Linked DNA regions of Homo sapiens. The protein of the gene in region 1 purifies or fractionates together with the protein of each later gene. This does not show direct contact. Each region holds a gene or a part of one and is shown on either strand. Other genes may lie near its edges.

Region 1 (4,254 bases):
GATACCCTTGTTTTTCCTTCAAAAAATACTAACACCAAGGTGCTCTATCACTTTTTATTAACTTAGAAACCTCACAAAATGCAATCGGTAATCCTTTTCTACTTCAGTCCTAGAGTTAGATGAGGTTAATGATACCAGCTACCAAAGAGAAAATATTTCCAGGGCAATTCAAAGCCCCTATTTGATTCTCTTAAAAAGACTGTATTTGTCCCTTGACTTATGAGACTGACCAATTAAAAGAGTTGTTCTGGGCCTAATCTGAGAAAATGCAGTTGTAACAGCAATAATAATAATAATAGCACAGCTATCATTTCTTGGGCATTTACTTAAGGGTCAGTTACTAGTCTAAAAACATTTCTTCCTCACAGTAATCCTACTATCATCATCCCTAACATATAGATGATGGTAAAAGAGAGTAAGGGACTTGTCTAAGATCACACATACCTATGGGCAGAGTGTGACGGGAATCTAGGTCTGATTCTAAAGCAGGGGTTGGCAAACTACAGCCCTTGGTCTGTTTTTGTATGGCCCGAGAGCTAAGAATAGTTTTTATGTTGTAAAACTTTATAAAAAGAAAAAAAAATCAAAGAAAAAAAATGCAACAGCGACAGAGATCTACGTATCCACAAGATCAACAATCATTACTACCTGGCCCTTTACAGAAAAAAAAAAAAATTGCTGACCTCTGGTCTAAAGCCTTGTACCTTTAATTACCACATCATACTATCTCTCTCTATAAAAGAAGTATCTCTGATCAGTTCATTACTTTATAATACTCATTTGGCATTTAACCAAATTTAAGATGCCATTATTTTCTTTATATGACCTGCCTATAAGTGACTTGAAGGCAAAGATCTTATACCTCTTTGTATTTTCTGAGCATAATACATAGAAGGTTTATCAACAAATGTTTGTTGAGGATAGTAAATAAATCACACACTGTTATGCAGAAAATTATATAGAAATATATAGCTTATCTGGCCAATTTGGCTTAAGGTGCACTGCAAATGAAATGCAAAACATATTAAATATAAAAACCATCTAATATGTCTAAAAACTAGGAATCTTAGTGAGCAGAGATATTTTACACGCAGGCTCAGAACTGTATTCTCTTAAAAATGAAAAATAAGCCTGAGTTCATGCATCTTCCTGAGGCACACAACTACCTTTCCTTGCTATCCTTGAGAGATGCACATTACAGAAGTCTGGATTTACTAGGGGGCGGGGGTTTGCATGGAGCAATGTCTTTTGTGCCAAAGCTTCATCTACCTATCTGCAAGTCTGAGAGACAAACCTCAACAAGCTCATCGGTTTAACTGCTCCAAATGAAGATAATCTTCACACATGTACTGCACAGAAAGAATTGTTTGTCCGCCCTCATCTCTTTAGCAATACCCGCACAGATTAATACAGTCGGCAATATGTATCTTTTCTCCTCTTGAGGCCCCAGCACAGCTCAAAATGCCTCTGAGCCCACACTTTGATTTACCCCTTCTCGCCTTGTCACCAAAATAATAATAATAATAATAATAATAAACCTCAGAAAGCAGACTGAGACACAAGAATCGAAGCCATTTATTCTACAATCGGTCAATAACCTCATGCCAACAGCAAGTCACCCATACTGCATATGCATGGTGTTTGTAATTACTGTTTGTCTGAACTGTCCTGATCATCGTATAGTACACTATACTTCTGGAAGGACCTTAACTCTTCCTCGTCCTCACTTTTGTATGCCTGAATTGGAAGGGTCAACCACAGGTATCCATATCAGATATTAGAGGCATAGTACAATAAATGGGATGTCATTAAAAATGCCCTAAGCCTTCTGTAGCCTATTTCACGTTCGGGTTTTTTTTTTCGGACTCCACAAGAATAAGATTTTCCTTTGCAACCTCGAAAGGACAGGGCGTAGCAGGAGCTAGGTGTTGAGTAAAGGTCGACTCTGGCTCCAAAAGAACGCCAGATTCTGGGCAGTAGAGATACTACTGCAGTTTCAATGAACCTTAAACAAACTGACACCCCAGAGAAATGGATCGCAATGGTGTCTCCCCTCCCCCAGCCCCCAGCCCAATTCCAGACACCGCGCCCACTCGTTTTCCATCCTCAGCCCCGGGTCCCGAGCTTGGTAGGCAGGGAAAGGGTGGGGGGCTGGGGGTGCGGAGGAAAAAGGGGGTGGGGTCGGAAGCGAAAAAGGTGTGGAGAGGCAGATAAAATGGGGCGCGAGGCTGAAGAGGAAAGGGGGTGAGGCAGAGAAACGCGGGGTAGGGGGAAGGCGAGGCAGAAAATGGAAGGAATTAGAAGGGGAGCCGAACGTAGGCCGAGCAGGGCCAGCAGAGGAGGCGAAGCAGCCGGCGGGCAGAGAAAGGGGCAGCGCCAAGGGGCTGACAAGGGTTGAGGAACTTGCCATAAATCATAGCCAGGCCGGTTTCGTGCAGGAAGCGGGCCCGGCGGTGCTTGAAGAGCCAGATTGTGAGAATGGTGAGGGTGAGCAGCAGGATGAAGATGAGCAGGTTGGCGCTGTCCTGCCGGTGGCTCTCCTCGGCTTGCTTCTCGGACACGATCTCCTCGTCCATGGCTCTAGCCTCTCCGCCGCCGCCGTCCGAAGCCCCTGCCCAGTCAAAGACGCCCACTGCGAGGAGCAACCAAAGGGGCCGCATGAGCCTGCGGGCTCGGGGACTGCTGCCGACGCCACGGCGGAGGGGTGCCCGCCGCCAGCCGCGCCGAGCCATGTCTCCCCCCGCCTCCCGCCCCTACCTCACCGGCGGCCGCCCGCGGTCGGACCACTCCCCGAGGGCTCACGGGAAAGGGGCGGGGCCCGGGGGTAGCCGTCGGAGCGCGCGCCGCCGCCGCCGCTCTTAAAGGGGCCGCGGCATCCCAAGCTCGCTCTGCCAGGTTCCTTTGCCCCTCTGTCCCAGGTCACACGCACCCACAGGCGCTGCCGGGAATGAAAGGCCGTCTAAACTAGCCCACTGCCTTTGGCTAAAGAAACATCGGCTCAGTGTAACCAAGCAGAGGCAGACTGCGCTTTCTACTTTGATCCTATTCTCAGAGCTCTCAGGGGAATTGATCTTTCATAGGAATTGATCTTTCATAACCCATCTCAATATCGTCCCCCAGTGTCTCTTAACAGGATAAGTTGTCCCCTTGGGAGGAGCCTCAATCTCCATCTCTGTAATTTAAATTTAAATCGGATTCTCCTTGTATTGTCCTCATCGGGAAAGAAAAAAAAAAAAACACAAAAAAACACCACACACACACAGAGCACTGTAGCAGTTCATAAAACAATCGACTCAAAGGTATGGATTATGTGTGTGTCTGTGTAGTCGGTTTTCTTTACATGTAAACATCTGATATAAGTCATCTCTCACGCTAGGAATCTGTACACAGAAACTCATCAACCTTACAGCAAAGATTGGATCGGTTTGTGCTTAGATTTCCCAATGCTCGTAAACACTTCCCTCCCGAAGAAAAAATCTTGGGTGGTGTGGTGGATTTCTCCTTCTCCTCTTGCTCCTTTTTACTGCTGTTTTAAAGCAAATGTCCCCAGCTCCGAAGTCACCCTTGACCCCTATCTCTCATCTCTCCTCTTTAGTATTCCTCAGGACAGTATTTTTTTTCTGTTCTCAGCCTGTCCAACCTCTCTCACCAGAATTTTCACAGTTCTCACCTCCATACTGGAGCTTTGTCTTTTGAGAACAGTGACTTCCTATTTTTTCTGTATTTCTCCGATCGCTCCTTAGTTTGTGTGGGCTCTTTGTTTTCTCAAGACTTTGATTTCAACATGAATGATCTACAAGTCTCAAGCCCTGGCCTGCTGCCCCAACTTCAGGCCTCTACCTGTTGGATTCTGAGCATACCCTGTTGAGGCTCCTACCACCCTCAAAACTAAAAATATTTTGAAATGAGCTCATTTGAAATGAGTTCCCCCTGCAAGTACAAATTCCTTCTCAAATTCTTCATACCATCAGTGGTACCACTGTCAGTTCAATTCCTATCATTCTGCCTGGAACTCATGATTCTCAAATGGTTCTTTCCATCTCATGGCCATATAACCTCCTTGCTAAAACAAGTAATACTCAGGCAACTCCAAGCTGCCCCTGTGTGTATTCACCCTCACTAACCAGCTCTCTAAGCTCTCAGGATGATGAGCTAAACAAAAAAAGCACTCAAACGATGTCCAATTCCACTTTCTGTCCCTGTCAGGTCAGGAACTGTCCCAAATCAGAGCCAGTGACTGTGTGCCCATTCTCT
Region 2 (3,500 bases), on another chromosome or scaffold:
CAGAATAGCTCAAGATTATGGAGGGCCTTGAAACTCACACAGAAATTTCTGAACTTGATGGAATCAATAAAATGGAGCCACTGAGATGACAGACTGAATTAGGAGAGGTGGCAATGAGATGAAAATGCAGGACAAAGACACAGGGACATTGCTAAGGAAAAAAAATGCTGCAGCTGAAGCAGAGGCAAGAGTCAAAAAGAACCATAGCTTCTAATTTGGCATCATGGCAGGATGAGTCATCTCTCCTTCAAACCAAGGAGCAGTCTAGAACATGGCAAAAGGGCTTCTCTGCCTTTTGGTAAAACAGTGATGATGATAAGGATAGCTAAAATCTATGAAGTGTTTTCTGAGGGCCAAGACAGATAATAAGTGTTTACAGAAATCATATAACACCATCCAACAACCTCAGGAGGTAGGTCAACAAATTAGAAATGAACAATAGAGTAAGATGGTCAAATACACAGGCTCTGAAGCCATCCTGCCTGAGTTCAAGTCTTGACTTTACTACTTACCATCCATATGACCTTGAGCAAGTTATTAACCTACCAGTCCCAAGTTTCCATTGCAAAATGGGGATAAATTCTACCTATCTCAGGAATTTTGTGAGGATTGAGTTAATGTATATAATGTCCATAGAACAGTACCTAGCACATATTAACATTCAACAAATATTAGATACTATTGTTATAAACTATTATATATTGCCATTCAAAATTTCACATCAAGTGACAAAACTACCCAGTAAATACAGAGATAATGGAAACTTGGATAAACAATCTTGAAAATTATTATATTAGGTTTACTCAAAGCTTATAAAAAAATTCCAGTTTGTTAGTCATAGTCCTGCTCCACTTGAGTACTTCTAAGTTGTCCTCCTAAATTGTAAAATCTAGCTCAAAATAATCATTTTTTGAGGCTATTTCAAATTTGGGAGGGGTGAATAAATCTGATTATGGCTGGCTTAACTACCAGAGGAATCCCTCCCCCACCACGACCCTCTATTATCCTGCATTGCTTACCCAGTAAGGTTGAAACGGCCTCCACGCCACCATTATAGATAGCAGCATAGCGAGAAGGCATCACTTTCTCCCACAGGCCCTGTGTGTAGTTCACAACTTGAAAATAGCCACAGGTAGAGAGGGCCCACCACACAGACCAGCAGAGAAGAGGGCGAGAGGAGTAGCACATCAGGAAATCATTCCATAGTACTTTCAATACAAGGAGACGGTCTGGCTTGGGTTCCTACATAGCAAAAGGGAACAATGCTCAAACTCTGATGAAGGCAATTATATAGAAAGCAATTTACAGGCCCAATTACTTACCTAACAGACTTTTTTCCTTGTGAAAACTAACTGCTTACTTCATAAACTTATTAACAAATACATTTATCCCCTCTGGCGAAAAATATGTTCTCATAGGATTTTTGCTTTAAATGCACTATAGCATTAACACAGCTGTATGTAATCAACCCAGCAAAAGATGTACTGTTTACAAAATGAAGATGATGAAAAGAGACCGCAGGCTTCAGCCAATGGGAGTCTGTAATCTACATCTCCCATAAACTGGCAAACAACATAACAAGAATAATAATAAGCAACAGACTAGCAACCCTAATAAATCACTATTCAGTTAAGGCCTCCTATCGTTATAATTGACAGACTGATCCAACAGTTAAGATAGAAATATTGGAAAGAAGTAGACCAAAATATTAGCAGTTCTCTCTAGGTGGTGGGTTCTTAGTGATTTAAATTTTCTTCCTTAAACTTTTTATATTACTTAATATTTAAACAATGAGAAATAGTATTATAATAAAGTAATAAATAAAGCTACTGGGCTTATAATTGAGTGAAGCAAGACATTACTGAGCTACGCACTATCCCAAGAAGTCAATATGAGATGTCAGACACTCTGTGAGATATCTCTGATTTCAACTGTATGAAAGGACTAATCTACCAAAGGTTACTGTAATCCCTGGGCCTTGCTCAGAACATGGGAAGGCCGGGTGTAGTGACTCATGTCTATAATCTCAGCACTTTGGGAGGCCAAGACAGAAGGATTGCTTGAGCCCAGGAGTTCAAGACCAGCCTGGGCAAGAAAGTGAGATCCTATCTCTACCAAAAAAAAAAAAAACCCACAGAAAATTTTACTTTTGTGGCTAACATGGAAAGGCAAAATGAGAGCCATGGAAAGATGAGTACAATATACCACTGAGTAAAATAACAGCAAGTTACAAGACTACATGTAGATCACAATTTCATTTACTATAAAATGTATACGTACATATGTATATAGGAAAAGAGATGTTTGAAAAGAAGTTCACTAATCTTTGGGTGGTAGTAGTTCAGGTGATTTTTTATTTTTTATATAGCTTTCTGTAACATTTAATTTAAAAAAATAAGTAGATGCCAGGCACAGTGGCTCACACCTGGAATCATCACACTTCAGGAGGCCGTGGCAGGAGAAATGCTTGAACCCAGAAGTTCAAGATCAAGCTGGGCAACATAGTAAGATCCCGTCTCCACACACACACACACACACACACACACACACACACACACACACACAATTTAATTAGCTGGGTGTGGTGGTGTACACATGTAGTCCCTGCTACTCAGGAGACTGAGGTGGGAGGATCACTTGAACCTAGAAGATCAAGGCTGCAGTGATCCGTGATCACGCCACTGCACTCCAGCCTGGGCGACAGAGACAGACTCTGTCTCAAAAAACAAACGTGTGTGTGTGTGTGTGTGTGTGTATATATACACACACACCATATATATCATTTTTATAAAATTAATAGATATTTTCTCCTCTTATATACAGTAACAGTGACCATCAACATTAGTTAAATAAAGGCCATTTTCTCCCTCAGAGGCTAGAAAACCTCACTGGACTGAGAATCCGAGTTTCATCGTTGTTTTACCTTCTCATACCATCCCAAAGCAACCCCAGTGTGGTGCTTCCTTCTTTGTGCTGTTTAGCCCAGAGGGGGATATCCTTCAAGTACCATTACTACAGCCCCTTTCCAAAATTCAGGGAGGAGTACTGAGGTTAATCAAAATAACTCAGAGAAAGAAGTACCGACACTTGAAAATTCTACTTGATGAATTTGCATAAGATAACCACCTAGAAGTACAACATACTGCTGTTACAAGATTGATTTCTTGGCACTGTGTATGAGAGCAAACCTTGTGAATTTAAACAAATCACAAGACAATTGTTAATCATATATAATGTGAATTTGCTAAGAGTGAGTGAATGGTACCAAGCACATTTTCATAAGTCTTTATTCAAGGTCCACCAGTTTTATTGAACTACATCAGAATTTTACTATTTAGCTTCAGTTGCTTAACCAATATAACTTGGAAAACAACTGGGATATCTAAAACTTTCAAGGATGCTGGAAGGATTATAAGAAAAGAAAGTATATTCCTGGAAGAATGGAACTATTAAAAGGATTCACAAGTTTCTATTAGAAATCCTACCATAAACTGATAAGA
Region 3 (3,500 bases), on another chromosome or scaffold:
TCATGAAGGCCGGCAGGCGGCCGGTGGCAGAAGCTCAGTGGTGGCGGGGGAGTCAGTCCCCAGGGAGCCCAATGGGCTGGGGGAAGGTCTGAACACTACAGCCTTCAAGGCAAAGGGAGGAGATATTTTGTCCAGAGAATAGGAGCCGGGGGCAGCCCCTGGGGCAGATGTGCTGAGGCAGGGGCAGGTGGTGTCCTGAGGCAGGGGCAGGTGTCCTGAGGCAGGGGCAGGCAGGTGCATGGGCCCTGATGGGTGAGGGGTTGGGGGAAGTGTGTTTCTTGGGGTTCTGCCTTGGCTGCCACTGGGATTGGGAGGGGCTGAGGCCCCAAGCCTTCAGGGTCTAGACAGAGGCCATGATGCCTGCTGTACCCAGAGAGAAGGCCAAGGCCTCACGGCCTCCGAGGCCCTACATAGTGTGGCCCATACCCCAGACCTCATCTTTGCTGTTTCTTCCTCTCCCACCCCCGACAGCTATGCTGGCCTCCTTGCTGCTCCTCAAGCAGAAACACCCAGCACCTCCTGCCTCAGGGCCTTTGCACGTGCTGTGCCCGCTGCCATCTCCCCAGCATCCATGGGGAGCCTCCCCTCCATCTTCACGTCTCTGCTCTAAAGCCCCCTTCTCAGAGAAACCTTCCCTGACCCCCACATATACAACAGCACCCTGATCCTGGCCCCCTCTCTCCCCTTCACCCTGGGTGTGTCTCCAGGGCACATATTTCAACCCAATATGCTGTGTAATTATTATCTTTATTATTATTTTTGAGATGGAGTCTCACTGTGTTGCCCAAGCTGGAGTGCAGTGGTGTGACCTTGGCTCACTGCAACCTCCACCTCCCAGGTTCAAGCGATTCTCATGCCTCAGCCTCCTGAGTAGCTGGGATTACAGGTGCCCACCACCACATCCAGCTAATTTTTGTATTGTTAGTAGAGACGGGGTTTCGCCATGTTGGCCAGGATGGTCTTGAACTCCTGGCCTCAAGCGATCCGCCCACCTCGGCCTCCCAAAGTGCTGGGACTACAGGTGTGAGCCACCATGCCCGGCCTTGCTGTGCAATTATTTATTTGCTGTTTTATTGTCTCCGATAGAAGGTCATCTTCGTAGGCATGGGAACTGTGTTTTATTCTCTGCTATATCCCCAGAGCCTAGAACAGTACCTGGCACATAGTAGGTGCTCAGCAAATAGTTGCTGCATGAATACAGAAATAAGTGACTGGATGAATGTGCAAGGGTGGCTCTGGCCTAGGGGAGGAGCTGCTTTTAGCCCCGCTTCATGGAGGGCGCAGGTGTCTTCATCCCCTGCTGTCCCAGCTGCCCTCCATGCCCCCCTGCCCCAGTGCACCCTCTCATACCCCCAACCCCAGCCCACCTTGTGCAGGTCCTGGGCCAGTGCGTCGTGCAGAAGCTGCTTGTTTTCTTGCAGGAAGCGGCCCAGGCCTTGGAGCTGCGCAGCCCGGAACTCAGCTGGCCGCGTGCGCCCCGCGTGGAAGGCCTCCCGCAGTCGCCGCAGCGTGTCCCCAAGGGGGTCCATCCTGCCAGATGGGGTGGCATGAACTGGGTGGCCAGGGCTGCCCCTCCTTCATGGGCACCACCCAGCCGCCCCAGGGTCTGGGCACCCCTGACCTGCCTGCACCCACAGGGGCTTGCAGACACCTCTACCTTATACACACACAGGGACCCACTCAGATGACCCCACAGGGACTGAGGCTGCCTGCAACCCCTTTCACCCAACAGTGAGCACTCCCAGACACACATGAAGACCCTCGCACCACTCCCCTCTGCCATGGACCTGGAGGCGGCTGCAGGACTGGGTGTGGGCTTGGGGACAGCTGCTCCACCACAGCCCCCGAGGGTGAGCAGGCAGGCAGAGCGCCATGCTTCTTCCTGCCGCACAGAAATTAACCCCAAGCCATGGCCTCTGCCCTGCCCTGATGCCCCTCCTGGAGGCGGGGCAGCCTCACCCCTGCCAGTCTGAATGGTGTAAGCAGGAGCTTGATGAGTAGAGGGGGTGACTCACTGCCACCATGGCCACCACCTTGGAGCACTCCAGACACAGAATTCTCCGTCTTCCTCTGTCCCCAGCCTGGGGGCACTGCCCAGGGAGGCCAGGCCAGTGGGCAATAGCCTCTTCTCCCTGTGCCTCAGCTTCCTCAGGAAGAGGGGGAGAACACCTCGGGCCTCCTGGAGGCCCTGCTGCCCACCCTGCCGGGGCTGTGGTGCTGGGAGGCAGAAACAGCTGTGGGGGAGAGGATCAGGGCGGGGGAGAGGGCGTTCCTGCCTCCGTGCTGGTGCCAGCCAGAGCTGGCAGGCAGGGTAGGGGCCTAGACATTCCCCCGAGCCCTGCCTGTTTACTTGAAGTTCATCGGAGGAGCACTCTGACGCACTCGTTCCTCGGCCTGGTGCCAAGGACCCGTGGTGACCCTTTCCTCCTTCCCTCTCCGAGTCCCTTTCCTCCAGATCTCAGCTTGGCTGATGCTTCCTCCAGGCAGCCCACCCAGATTATGCCCTCATCCACTGTCACAGTGGCCCCTTGACTCTGCTCCCCAGCGTTCTGAGTTGTGCCATGTGATAAATGTCTGGTTACACTCTACCCACCTCCCAACCCTGTCCACATCTCCCTTATTTCCCCCTCATTAGACTGGGAGGCAGGCCCCTCTGTGCCTACTTATTTGAGACCTAGTGCTTGAAGCCTCTCATGTTACCGGTGTAATGATGGCACCTGCCAGCTAATGATGAGACCACACAGTCGGTTCTGAGCCCAGGGCCCAGCATCGGTGAGCGCAAGGCTGTGGGTGATTGTTAAGTGGCCACCTTGAGGGCGGGACCTGCTCCGGTCTGCAGGATGGCCCTGCTGGACCAGTGTGCTACTGAGAGCCTGGTCAGGAGCCCCAGGCCAGCCCTCAGCTGGAGTGATTGTGGGGCCAGGCTGAACCCACCATCTTCCTGCTCTGATTGGGAGAAGCTGGGCAGTGGCCCGCACACAGGACAGGCACCATGGTCCCCATAGGGGATGGCTCGTCACGGGAGCAGGACTGAGACCCAGGAGCCAAGAACGAGCCTCTCGAGCCACCATCAGGCCTGTCTCCGGGCTCTGCCTCTTACTGGTTGTGGGACCTTGGGCAAATCACTCACCTTCTCTGCCTCGGTTTCCTCATCTGTGAAATGGGGATGCTAATGGCACCTGGTGTCATTGTGAGGATTAAATGACATCACGCTGCATAAAACATTTGCTGTTGTGCCCACAGAAAGTACTCGACAAAGGTCAGCTCTGGGTGTTTTGCTAAGTAGCCTGCAAATATTTATCTCCCTCAACTCCGCACTCTCCTGGGTCCTTCTCCATTCTACTCTCACCTTCAGACTTCTGCCAGTGGTCAAAGGCAAACCACGCCTGTGCCTCTCTCACCCTTTGTAAGAATCTCTGCAGAAACCACAAAAATGCAAGGCACGTAACGTGAATGGTGGACTGTGGGCCGGGAGCTCTGTGGGGGATGGAGTTCTGCAG
Region 4 (3,500 bases), on another chromosome or scaffold:
TGATCCTTATTTGTTTGCTTTCCTTTAGAAAAGCGGAGGTAATCAAACTAGGAAAAGCTGCCTCTTCCTATCACTCCTCTTACTCGTGCCCTAAGCGGAGTTTTGGCCCCTCCACTGCTCTGGGACCAGCAGCTGATTCCCGTGCTGTACCTCCCATCCCATCCTGCTACCAAGGATCCAATCGGCACCTGAAACTGATTCCCAGATTACCAACAACTATTAAATATGAACCCACTCTTACCTTGAAAAACACACTCAAAATCACCAGCCTCTAACACTTTATGTTCCAGGCAGTATACTGAACACTGTAGGTATATTTTCTCATTCAATCTTCAAACCAACATTAAGAGGCTAACACTATTTCTATTACTCCATTTTATAGATTGGGACACAGAGGCTGGGAGAAGCTAAGTAAATGTGTCCAAGTCCCTCAGCATGTACAGAATGGAGGCAGGATCTGAACATGGATTCTAAGCACTGTCTTATGTTAATAGCCCAGGCACCATTTGGACCTCACCTTCTTGGCATTCCAGGGCCACACAGACCAGGGTACTTCAACACCACCATGTTTATCTGCCTCTGCCTCCTCTATATTGGGCACCAAATTTAGAGACCAACTGGAGTGGGGAACAAAGGGCTTAGTGGCTCAGCCAGGACAAAGCATGATAAAACAAAAATTTTTTCAAAAGAAAGAGAAAAAAGAAATCAACAAGAGATTAAAAACATGCCTAGAAAATCCCTTTAGAAACTGAGGCAGACAGGAGGAAGCTACCAATTCACTCCCCCAAACCACTTTACTAAGCTCCCAAGAGCAGTTAAATGTTATCAGATCCCCAGACTTAGTGAATCCTCCTTTCTAGGATCCCAGCTGTTCCGAGCATCAGAGGATAATGTCAAAAATGCTGTTGCAACTGCAGACCCCAGTAACAGCTGGGCAGGTGGGGTGGGGCCACTTGCCTTGGGGAGCTCACCACGTGAGGGTGGTCATTGGTGCTGGGTGCAGGCTGTACTTCTGGGGGCCCTGGCCAGCCCCAGACACGGGCACAGAAAAGCCCATAAGGGCTTTAAGGTTTGATAAGGAGTAAAAGCTCCAGGAATTCTGGGCCCAGAGTAGGAGGTGCACACTCACATGCCTGCTAGGGCCGGAGCCAATGGAGAAAGTAAAGCTGAGGGTGGGCTGTGTGACCTGGAGACAGAACACCTAATGCCAGCTGATGAGAGAATGGCGGGAAAGCAGCCTGGTGGTACCTATCTGTATCAGTCTGCTTGGGCTCCCATAACAGAATACCAGACTGAGTGCCTTAAATGACAGAATTTTCTCACAGATCTGTCAGGGTTGGTTTCTGGTGAGGCTTCTCTTCCTGGCTTGTAGATGGCCTCTTCTCTGTGTGGTGGGGAGGGAGGAGAGGGGCAGGTGAGCAAGGGGGAAAGGGAGGGAGAAAGGAAGCCGGGAGAGGGAGGTGGGGAGAGAGAGAAACACTCTGATCTCTTTTCCTCTTCTTATAAGGACACCAGTCCTATCAGATTAGGGCCCCACCCTTATGACCTCATTTAAGCTTCATTATTAGGATGATCTATCTCTAAACACAATCACAGGGGGGTTAGATCTTCAACATATAAATGGGGGGAACATGATTCAGTCCATAGCAATACTCTTCTGATTTTCCCAGAGAAGCAAAAATCTATTTAAAATGTGAAATGTCCTCATTTGTAACTTCTGGCAATTATTCAAATTGAGTGAAGACAACGTGCACCAAGGCCTGGGGCTGCTGGCCTCATGGTTGCCAGTTAAAAACGGATGCTCATTTGCAAGCTCTGGTCTAAAGCAAATCCCCTGTCCTGCTGGCCTCACCATGGCCTGTGCCCGGGTTCCCAGTTTTGTGACTGCCAGAACCAGCAGCTCACCGGTCACTCCTCCACAAGAAGGGTTACAGAGGTGGAGGGACCAGACAGCCAGCACCTGCCAGACCCAGGCTGCAGAAGATCAGGCAGGGCCCAGGCCAGGAGGGGGTCAGCAACGGTGCAGAAGGTTTTATATTTTACTTTCACAGCAATTTGACTTTTAAGGATTGTTCACACTTCCAATTGAAAATTATAGAAATCTTATTTTGTCACTGAAAAGTGTTTTTGTCCTAAATGCAGCCTGAAGTACTAGTGCTAGATTGTGGAAGCTTTCAGTCCTGTATTGATTTGTTGTCTTACATGTTGTAAATTAGTAAGGAGTAAACATGTTTCACTAACTCAAGCTTATCCTCAGAATGATCTCTTTCCCCCTCCTTTTTTTTTGGTTATCTGAAGTAGTATATGGAACTGGTATTAATAACATAATGCTTACATTTGCTCCTAAATTAAATATTAACCTAATGCTATTGATAAATTCGGCATTTATAGATCAGGTTTTCTGACCAAGGTATTTATCCTTTGGCAAAATCTTGGCAGTCTGAGTGGTTCTTGTAAAACTTAACACATTTAATTATCAAGGCATATTTAACATTTAGTTAAGGGCTCACTTTCTTAGATTAAAACTTTGACATGGGTAGTATCTTCTTGCTTTAGAATAAAGAGCAAAGCAAAGTCAAAGCTGGAGACATTAATCCACCATCAATAGCTGATGACTGTGACTATATTGCCTTATCAATAGAAAAGGAACCCCTTCAAAGCAGGAAAAACTCCAACAGAATTCAAGTCTGTACTACTTTGGTGAGAAGGGTGATGTCAGTCTTTGCTGAGGATAAACCAAGGCTTGAGTGTGGGGCAGGACGTTCGGCCTTCCACCAGCTCATATGCAACCCTCTCACCGGTTTTCAGCCTCCAAATAACGCAGAAACCTTTGCTTGCCACACAGCCTGCCGTGTCATCTGGCTTTTGCTTAGCACAAATGGGTCACCTGGAAGTGACATGTGCCTGTATTGGTCCTCTCTGGCATCACTGTGTACCAGTGTGGTCATAAACGGGGATGAAACAGGGAACAGAACGGTGGGAACCTCTGTTGTGTGGCTCACAAAGGTAATGGAGAACACGCCTACACCAGGTTTTCTAGGTGGAACTACAAAATCAAATGAAAACAATTCTTACAGGGAATGCTCAGACCCCAGTGTGTACACAAATCCAGATGGACCCTCAGGCCCAATTTGAGAGGGTTGAACTGATCAAGAGAGCCAAAAACACCCAGTATAGGAAGCATAAAACATTCACAAAGAAACACGAGGAAGTGTGCACAACAAGAGATCATCCAGGGAAGCTGGCTGGAGGGTGGGTGAGTTTTGAGCAAGTTTTTGGAGGTGTTTTGGTGGTGATGGAGGATAAGATGAGCATCTCTGTTATGTGTCTACATGTCCCAATTACTCATGACTGCTACAAATCTGTCTGCAGCAAGCATCACTGTCTAGTTCTCACAAATGTCCAGCAAACCATGAGGCCTCCAAGCCATGGGCAGTGATGGCCAGGCCCAAAGCCATGTGCAGTTCAGTGGGCACTGCATACCCAGACAGGTAAAGGTC

Evidence for each region. Proteins that work in one complex are often made in the same cells at the same time.
Region 2: the proteins of SLC9A6 (region 1) and SLC19A2 purify together in Homo sapiens (affinity purification with mass spectrometry; 2 studies listed by BioGRID and IntAct, with this or other methods). This does not show direct contact.
Region 3: the proteins of SLC9A6 (region 1) and ALDH3B1 purify together in Homo sapiens (affinity purification with mass spectrometry; 2 studies listed by BioGRID and IntAct, with this or other methods). This does not show direct contact.
Region 4: the proteins of SLC9A6 (region 1) and POMGNT2 purify together in Homo sapiens (affinity purification with mass spectrometry; 3 studies listed by BioGRID and IntAct, with this or other methods). This does not show direct contact.

Annotation. Positions count from the first base shown.
Region 1 is NC_000023.11:135,983,981-135,988,234, reverse strand, and holds the start of SLC9A6 (sodium/hydrogen exchanger 6), read right to left. Parts: upstream 2,801-4,254; 5' UTR 2,758-2,800; exon of another isoform or gene 2,733-2,757; coding exon of another isoform or gene 2,577-2,732; coding exon 2,408-2,576; intron 1-2,407. UniProt on the Homo sapiens protein: Endosomal Na(+), K(+)/H(+) antiporter. Mediates the electroneutral exchange of endosomal luminal H(+) for a cytosolic Na(+) or K(+).
Region 2 is NC_000001.11:169,468,945-169,472,444, forward strand, and holds part of SLC19A2 (thiamine transporter 1), read right to left. Parts: intron 1,243-3,500; coding exon 1,020-1,242; intron 1-1,019. UniProt on the Homo sapiens protein: High-affinity transporter for the intake of thiamine. Mediates H(+)-dependent pyridoxine transport.
Region 3 is NC_000011.10:68,013,327-68,016,826, reverse strand, and holds part of ALDH3B1 (aldehyde dehydrogenase family 3 member B1), read right to left. Parts: intron 1,531-3,500; 5' UTR 1,530-1,530; coding exon 1,368-1,529; intron 1-1,367. UniProt on the Homo sapiens protein: Oxidizes medium and long chain saturated and unsaturated fatty aldehydes generated in the plasma membrane into non-toxic fatty acids. May have a protective role against the cytotoxicity induced by lipid peroxidation.
Region 4 is NC_000003.12:43,096,080-43,099,579, forward strand, and holds part of POMGNT2 (protein O-linked-mannose beta-1,4-N-acetylglucosaminyltransferase 2), read right to left. Parts: intron 1-3,500. UniProt on the Homo sapiens protein: O-linked mannose beta-1,4-N-acetylglucosaminyltransferase that transfers UDP-N-acetyl-D-glucosamine to the 4-position of the mannose to generate N-acetyl-D-glucosamine-beta-1,4-O-D-mannosylprotein.